Linked DNA regions of Homo sapiens. The protein of the gene in region 1 purifies or fractionates together with the protein of each later gene. This does not show direct contact. Each region holds a gene or a part of one and is shown in the gene's direction. Other genes may lie near its edges.

Region 1 (3,804 bases):
GCCTCCGCTTCCTGGGTTCAAGCGATTCTCCTGCCTCAGCCTCCTGAGTAGCTGGGACTACAGGCGCCCGCCACCATGCTCGGCTAATTTTTGTATTTTTAGTAGACACGGGTTTCACCATGTTGTCCAGAATGGTCTACATCTCCTGACCTTGTGATCCACCCACCTCAGCCTCCCAAAGTGCTGGGATTACAGGCGTGAGCCACCGCACCCAGCAAAAAAATGTTTAAAAACATTTTTTTTGGTCTGCTCTTTCTGTATTTCTTGTGTTCCCATCCTGATCATTAAAGGAAAGGAATATATGAAGTATATGTGTAGGTTTCCAGAGTAGGTAGTGGGGGTGAATGGTAGAATTAGAGATTGGTGAAATGCCTTATCAGTTACAGTAATAGATAAAAATTGTTCTCTTTGAATAATAAGTTCAAATATGTCAGGTTAATTCAATCTAACAAATATGCTTTGAGTTCCTACTATGTACAAGTAGTGTTCTAGTTTTACATGGGTGATGTAAGGGCAAATAGTTCTAGTCATTAAAGAAGAGAAAATAAAACAGAAACACAGTGGTGAATTTACCATGAATCTAATGCAGCTTAAACTTCAAGTCCCTTCATTTACACAGGCCCCTTCTAAGTGAGTGGGAGGAGCCTTAACAGTAAGTTTAGATGTTCATTTGCAAAATTAAGATTTTAGCTGTAATTGGATAAGATTGCTATCACTTTTTTTTTTTTTTTTTTTGAGACAGGGTCTCGCTTTGTCACCCAGGCTGTAGTGCAGTGGTTTGATCGGCTCACTGCAGCTTTGACCTCCCAGATTCAAGCAATCCTCCCACCTCAGCCTCCCGAGTAGCTGGGACTACAGGCATGTGTCACCATGCCTGGGTAATTTTTTTTTTTTTTTTTTCCTGAGATGGAGTCTTGCTCTGTCACCAGGCTGGAGTGCAGCGGCGTGATCTTGGCTTACTGCAACCTCTGCCTCCCGGGTTCAAGCGATTCTCCTGCCTCAGCCTCCCGAGTAGCTGGGACTACAGGCACGTGCCATCACGCCCAGCTAATTTTTTGTATTTTTAGTAGAGACGGGGTTTCACCATATTAGCCAGGATGGTCTCGAACTCCTGACCTCATGATCCACCCACCTCGGCCTCCCAAAGTGCTGGGATTATAGATGTGAGCCACCACTACCACCTGGCCCATGCCTGGGTAATTTTTATATCGTTTTTTAGAGACAGAGATTTTGCCATGTTGCCTAGTTTTGTTTGGAACTTCTGGGCTCAAGTGATTTGCCCACGTTGGCCTACCAAAGTGCTGGAATTGCAGGCATGAGCCACCATGCCTGGCCTGCTGTCACTTTTATTTATTTGTTTATTTATTTTTTTTGAGACAGAGTCTTAGTCTGTTGCCCAGGCTGGAGTGCAGTGGCACGAGCTCGGGTCACTGCAACCTTCGCCTCCCAGGTTCAAGCAATTCTCGCACCTCAGCCTCCCAAATAGCTGGGATTACATGCACATGCCGCTGCGCCTGGCTAATTTTTGTATTTTTAGTAGAGACAGGGTTTTTCCATATTGATCATGCTGGTCTCAAACTCTGGGCCTCAAGTATCTGCCTGCCTTGGTCTCCCAAAGTGCTGGGATTACAGGCGTGAGCCACCAAGCCTGACCTACTGTCACTTTTGGTTCCAATTTACCATGCAATATATTTCTACGTGTGTTGGGTTATAAGAGAGGGGTCACAAGAGTTTTGGGGAGAAATTTTGGAATAATGTATTTGTGGTTTTGTATCTGTGTTTCTACTTTTGCAGAGGGAAACAGTAGAAAGAATTTAGTCATCTACAGATATTAGTCCTCAAGTAAGTTAGGACTCTTAGGAAACCATTGGCCTCACTAAGAGTTTTGACTAAACTTTAGAAGAAAAAAATCATTGAGCTACCAAGGACTATATGTTGATAAGAGATGATGAGTTGCACTCTGCTTGTTATATATGGAAGGTCAGATTCACTCTCCTGTATCATTGGTCCTATAAAATAACAGCAGTTCTCATCCTGCTTTCATAACAGTGTCATTAGAGCTGTATGTATTTCCCTTTTACTTCTTGTTGGCTAAGTAGAAAAAAGGAAAATAACTTCTTTCAGATATTTGTTTAAAACTATGAAGGAAATATTGAGTTACCAAATGTAGTGGGAATTTTTAGTCAAAAAAATTTTTTTTTAAGAGACAGGGTCTTTCTCTCTTGCTCAGGCTGGAGTGCAGTAGTATGATCATAGCTCGCTGCAGCCCCCGGCTCCTGGATTCAAGCAGTCTTCCTACCTCAGCCTCCCATGTAGCTGGGACCACAGGTGTGTGCTGCCACTTCTGGCTAATTTTTTATTTTTATTTTTTAGTGGAGAAAAATGTTGCCCAGACTGCTCTTGAACTCCTGACCTCAAATGATCCACCTGCCTCAGTCTCACAAAGTGCTGAAATTGCAGGTGCGAGCCACTGTGCCTGACCAAACTTTTTATTTTGGGATAATTTTAGATTTACAGAAAAGTTGAAAAGAGAATGCAGATAATTCTTATTTGCCCCTCACCCAGTTCCCCTAAATGTTAACATTTTATATTCTTGTGGTATATTTGTCAAAACTGAAAAAACAACATTGATGCATTGCTATTAACTAAACTCCAGACTTCATTTGGGTTTCCCCAGTTTTTCTATTAATGTCCTTTTTCTTTTTTTTTTTTTTTTTTTTTGAGACGGAGTTTCGCTCTTCTTGTCCAGGCTGGAGTGCAATGGCGCGATCTTGGCTCACCATAACCTCTACCTCCTGGGTTCAAGGGATTCTCCTGCCTCAGCCTCCCGAGTAGCTGGGATTTACAGGCACCTGCCACCACACCTGGGTAATTTTGTATTTTTAGTAGAGACGGAGTTTCTCCATGTTGGTCAGGCTGGTCTCAAACTCCTGACCTCAGGTGATCTGTCCGCCTCGGCCTCCCAAAGTGCTGGGATTACAGGCGTGAGCCACTGTGCTTGGCCTTAGTGTCCTTTTTCTATTGCAGAAATCCCATTCGAGATACCATATTGCATTTAGTCATCATATCTCCTTAGTTTCTTCTGGTCTGTGACAGTTTATCATGATCTTGACAGTCTTGGCAAGTACTGGTCAGCTATTTTGTAAAATGTCCCTCCATTTGGACTTGCCTGGTATTTTTATGGCTAGACTGGGTTATAGTTTTGGGGGAAGAATACCAGCGAGGTGAAGGGCTCCCCCTGATCACATCATGTTGGGGCACATGATAACCATGTGACATCACTGGCTACGATAACCTGGACACTTGATTAAGACAGTGTTGTCAGGTTTCTCCACTAAAAAGTTACTATTTTTACCTTTTTTTAATATGTTGTTCTTTAGAAAGGAGTCATTAATTCCAGCCTGCGTTCAAGGATAGGGCCAGGTAATTAAACCACCTCCTGGAGACGTGAATATCTTCTTAGAGTTATTTTGAATTCTGTGAAGAAGATTTGTGCCTTCTCCTCCATTTACTTATATATTCAATCATTTGTTTATATCAGTCTGGATTGACATGTATTTTGTACTTTGGTTGTTTTGTTGCTCAGATTGTTCCCGCTGTGGCCATTGATTGCTCCTTAGGCTTGGCTCCTGGGTTCCTTTGATATGCAGCCCTCCTTCTGTCTGGTGGAGCACGTCCTTGCTTTCTGGCACTGCAAGATGTTTCAAGGATCATCTTATATATTTCCTGCCCCAGCCCTAGAGTCACCCATATTTCCAGGGAGCTCTTGTTTCTTTTATTGGAGAATGGTGTTTAGAAACCATG
Region 2 (4,499 bases), on another chromosome or scaffold:
GGTGTTCTTGCTCCTCGGATGTGGATGTATTAATTTCCATAAATGCTAATAGCCCACTTCCCCAAGAGCTATTACTTATGTCATCTCCCCTTGGACACAGTTCAACACAGGGCAGACAAATGAAAGGGAGGAAAAGACAACCCCCAGTGGCGGTCCCCAGCTCCTCAGCCCCCTCCCAACCAGGCAGCTCAGGTCTGGTTCCTAAGGTGGCCCTGCTAACCGCAGGGTCAAGACCCCTGCCTTCAGCTCCGTAGCCAGGTCCCTATCACGACAGGAAGCAAGAAAGTTACCAACCCCAAAAATGCTGAATCACAAAGTGAGGCTGAGCAGGAAAGTGGGGGTGGGGAGGGAAGGAGACGGTGGCCAGGGAGGAAAGGTGCTAAGGGGCTTTCCACCTGGAGCACCCCGGGATGCTGCGGGCAAAGCACAGTCCCTGTAAGAGCCCCCAGGACAAATGCCAGGAGGAGGGACACCAGGATGCGGCTGGTTGGCGGGGTGGGAAGGTGGGCAGGTACCCCGGCTGCTGCTAATGCCGCAGGACGCGGTGCAGCAGTGGGGTCTTTGCATCCTGGGAGCAGCAGCAGGTAGGGAGGTGCGGAAGTGCTTTGTGCCAAGGCCTGGCAGGAGGGAGAAGCTTAAGATAGGAGTAGGGGCTCAGGGTCAGAAGTGGCGGTGTGTGTGCTGTAAACAGCCCGAGGAACTGGTGCAGGAAGCAGGGTCACAGTCTTGGGGAGCAGGGTAAGGTGGTGAGAGCGTGCCCGCGGGGAGAGGTCGGAGGGGCTGGGGGCAGAATGGGAGGGTGGGGAAAGGGACCGGAGCGACACAGGGACAGGCAGCGAGAACGACGGATGAGCCTTGAGAAGCGATCAGGAGGAGAGATGGGGAGGACCGGGAACAGCAGCGCCCCGGTGGGGCTGCGCAGAGGCCGGGAGAGGGGATGAGAGGAGGATGGAGGAAAGGGGAGGGCGAGGCTGCTAGGACCGGAGCGGGCAGAGATGGGGAAGAGGTGCACCGGGAAGAGGGACGGCGGCAGGGGCAGGGGTCAGGGATGCGAGCTGAAGGGTCGGGCGGGCGGGAGGACAGGGAAGGAAAGACAGAAAGGGATGGGGGAAGGGAGACGATGGAGAAGGAGGTGAGGAGGCTGGAGAGGAGGTGAGACAGCGGCGGAGGCAGGGACGCAGGGCCGGGGAAGAAGAGATGGAGACGGGACCGCGGCGCCTGCCGCAGCGCGGGCCTCGCGGATACCCGCCGCCGCCGTCCCGGAGCAGCTTGGTGGAAAGCGCGCCCCGCCGGGGTCTCCCCGGTACTCACCTGGGGGCTCCAGCTCCGGATCCTGTGCCCCGCGCCGGATCTTCCTTCCCGCCCTGCCCCTGCGACTTTAGCGCCCCCGAATCCCGCTAGCTCCTGCAGGTTCCGCCAGCAGCATCTTCACCTCGTGGGACGCCCGGGGCCACGCCTCTTCCAGCTTCTGATTGGCTATTGTTCACGCCAGTCACATTACCATTGGTTGAGGGGTCGTCGGACATGCAAATCAGGATGGGCCCGCCGCCGCACCGATTGGCTGGCGCTCGCAAAGCGCAGCCCTCGACTTGGGCTCTGATTGGCTCCGCGGCCCTGACGGCGACAGTGACGCGAGGCGGGTTCTTGGACTGAGTGTGCGGCGCGGTGCGCCGCCTTCCGAGGCTCCTCCCGCGGGTGGCAGCGGACGGGGCGCGCCCCTCGGCCAGTCCTCGGTCCTCAGGCTTGTGGCTCCGTTGAGCACCGGCCGCCGGGCCTCTGGGTCCGTCGAGTGGAGACTCTCTGAAAAGCGTGGGCTCCGTGGCCTCCGGCGCGGCCGCGGCGGGTCGGTCTCCTAGGTAACGCGGCCCGCGGCGGGCGGAACCATGTGGGCCGGCGCCGCGGGGGAGGTTGGACGCGGCCTCGAGGCACAGGGGGCCTCAGTGTTGGCCAGAGCCTCGGGGTTCGGGGGTAGGGTGGTCCACGCCGTCCCTGCGTGGGGGCCCGGTGCCTGGGGTGCGGCGGTGGCGCGCGGCGGGGGCTGTCCCCGCGTTAGTCGCAGGCGTCCCCCCTCGTCGGGACACTTGGGGTCGGGGCCGCTGGGTGCCGTTTGGCTACGTGGGTTCCTTTCTGCCCTTGCCCTTTGCCCCCTGCCCCCTGCCCCCTGCCCCCTGCCCCCTGGCCTCTCTGCAGCCCCTCGGCTGAAGGGAGCGCGGTACCGATGTTCTGGGCCTTGGCTCCCCGCGCCCTAGTCCGCGCGCATCCTTCCCAGGCCGGAGTCCGCGGACCCCGCCTGGCCGCGCCCCTCCGCCCCTCCTCCCCGCCCCCCGGCTCCAGCTCCGGCTCCGGCTGTCAGTTCCCCGCGGTGGCTCTGCGGCCTTCGGGCGTCCCTGCGAGGCTTTGTACCCGGCGCCGTCCCGGCCTTCTGCGCCCCTTTCCTGCCTTGGAACCTCCCGGCCGACCCGGCCCGGAAGGCGCCACCCGCTCCCGCGTGCCCTTCCCCACGCGTGCAGGCTGCTCCCGCCCGCCCCCGGGCTTGCAGGCACCTCGCTGCCCGAGATTCCTCGTGTCTAACTTCTTAGGAGACCGCTGCTTTCTGCCTCCGTGTGTCGCGATGTGTGGCTTTGGTGGACGTCTGTGAAGGAAATCCAGCCTCTCGCGTGTGTAGTTGGCAAAAGGAGGAGTATTTCTGTTGATGGTGGGCAGCGCCTCCCGGTCCTAACCCAGGGCTCCGTTCGTTGCACCTCCTCTGTGCAGTTTCCGTAGGTCACACTTGTGTCTTTTTGTATGCTAATTTGTGCCCCGTTTCTTTACATTCTATGGGGGTAGCGAGCTTGTCTGCTGTGTTCAAGACCGTTTCTCCCGGGCGCAGGGTAGGTGCTGAAAGAATGCTCATGAATGAGGGAATTCCAGGCAGTGCTTAATCAGACCTCTGCTTCCCCAAAAGCTCCCCAAGGCATCTGGGTCTCAGGCATTACACATTTTCCATTCCGGGAAGGAGGCTTCCCGGACCCTGACAGCGCCTCCCACCCCCTGCATCTTCCTTCAGCCCTGCTCACCTCTGCACCCTCCCGGGGGCCTGTTGCTGCTCACAGTCACTTTCTTGTCTTTCTCCCCCACTGGCTTTCTAGATGCTTGAAGACAGCACATTTGACAGCCTTCTTATGCACTGGAACACAAGTGCTCGGGAAATAGTTGCTGAATAGATCAGCAGAAGCAGAGATCTCAAGGAGATTTCACAGCTCTCATTTTGGAGGTTGGAAACAGGTGGGGAGGCTGCGAATCTGTCCTGAAGTTAAAGAGGAGACAGCATTAGCCCTGGGTTCCTTTGGTGCTCTTACTTTTTCCCTCTGGGCCTCTCTTCTCCCTTGGCCTCTCCTGGCCTCCTTGATTGAGGTAGTGGGAGGTAGTTATAATAGCTTACAGTATTATATCTATAATACTATTATAATAGCTAGTTATAATAGCTAGCTGTGTGACCTTGGATTGGCTGTTTATCCTTTCTGAGTCTCAGTGTTCTCATCTGTAAGATGGCGATAATGATGATTCTCATTTGGCAGAGTTGTTGGAATAGTAACCATAGAATGTGAGTTCCTGTCTTGCATCAGGGGCTCATTAAAAGTGGGTGTATTTTCTTCTTCTTCTTTTTTTTTTTCCCCTGGAGAGCCCACTGTACCCTTTTCTTGGGTTCAAGACCTGGAGCCTTCTCGATTTTCTCTTTTATTGTTGATTTGGCCCCAAAGGCCCCTCTGCACTTCCTCCAGGGCATTTGTATTTCATCCTTAAAAGACTTTTGCTGAAGACCCAGCCTGGTGTCATGGAGCTCACAGTCTCGCAGGACTACAGCACAGCCCTGGTGAAGCGTGGTGGCTCTTCTGTCACCTGCCCTGTGTGGGAGCAGCCGGAGGTGGGGGATGGGGCTCTCGCTCTGAGGAGGGAGCATTTGGTTTGACTCCTAGAGGCCAGAGCAGAGGTGGAAAGGAGCAAGGAGCAGGTGGAAGGGCACCCGGAGAGGTTTGTGAGGTGCTGGGATGGCAGTGAGAGCTGCTGCGGGCGCTTGGGCTCCCACCTGCAGAGTCTCAGGTGTCACCTCGGCCTCCGTGGCCCCTCAGACTAGGACTGCCCTGCCTCCACATCCCGAGCCTCAGGACTTCCGTGTGGGTGGCAGGTGCTTTCGGAATGGATGCCCTTCCGCCTAGTGTCTGCCCTCCTAGTACAGCAGGGGGCCGGCATGCTTCATGCTCCCTGTGAGGGTCGACTGGCGTATGCACGTCCTTCAGCAGTGTCCTTGGGCCAAGTGTGGCACTGAGTCCTGCAGACACCCAGGGAGAGGGCAGGAGGCACCGGGTCAGAAATCTGGGGCAGGTGAGGAGCATGGGCATCTGCGTCAGGAGAGACTTCCTCTCTGAAATCCCCACCTGGGGCCATCACGGCCTGCATTGTGTGTGAATACATTTCTGAATGTTATAAAACATCAGTGGGAAAGAAAAGCTTGAGGGTAG

What was found.
Region 2: the proteins of SPIRE1 (region 1) and NPHP4 purify together in Homo sapiens (co-immunoprecipitation; one study listed by IntAct). This does not show direct contact.

Annotation. Positions count from the first base shown.
Region 1 is NC_000018.10:12,647,808-12,651,611, reverse strand, and holds part of SPIRE1 (protein spire homolog 1), read left to right. Parts: intron 1-3,804.
Region 2 is NC_000001.11:5,989,601-5,994,099, reverse strand, and holds the start of NPHP4 (nephrocystin-4), read left to right. Parts: upstream 1-1,674; 5' UTR 1,675-1,856; intron 1,857-2,175; exon of another isoform or gene 2,176-2,759; intron 2,760-3,128; exon of another isoform or gene 3,129-3,264; intron 3,265-3,272; exon of another isoform or gene 3,273-4,499. UniProt on the Homo sapiens protein: Involved in the organization of apical junctions; the function is proposed to implicate a NPHP1-4-8 module. Does not seem to be strictly required for ciliogenesis. Required for building functional cilia.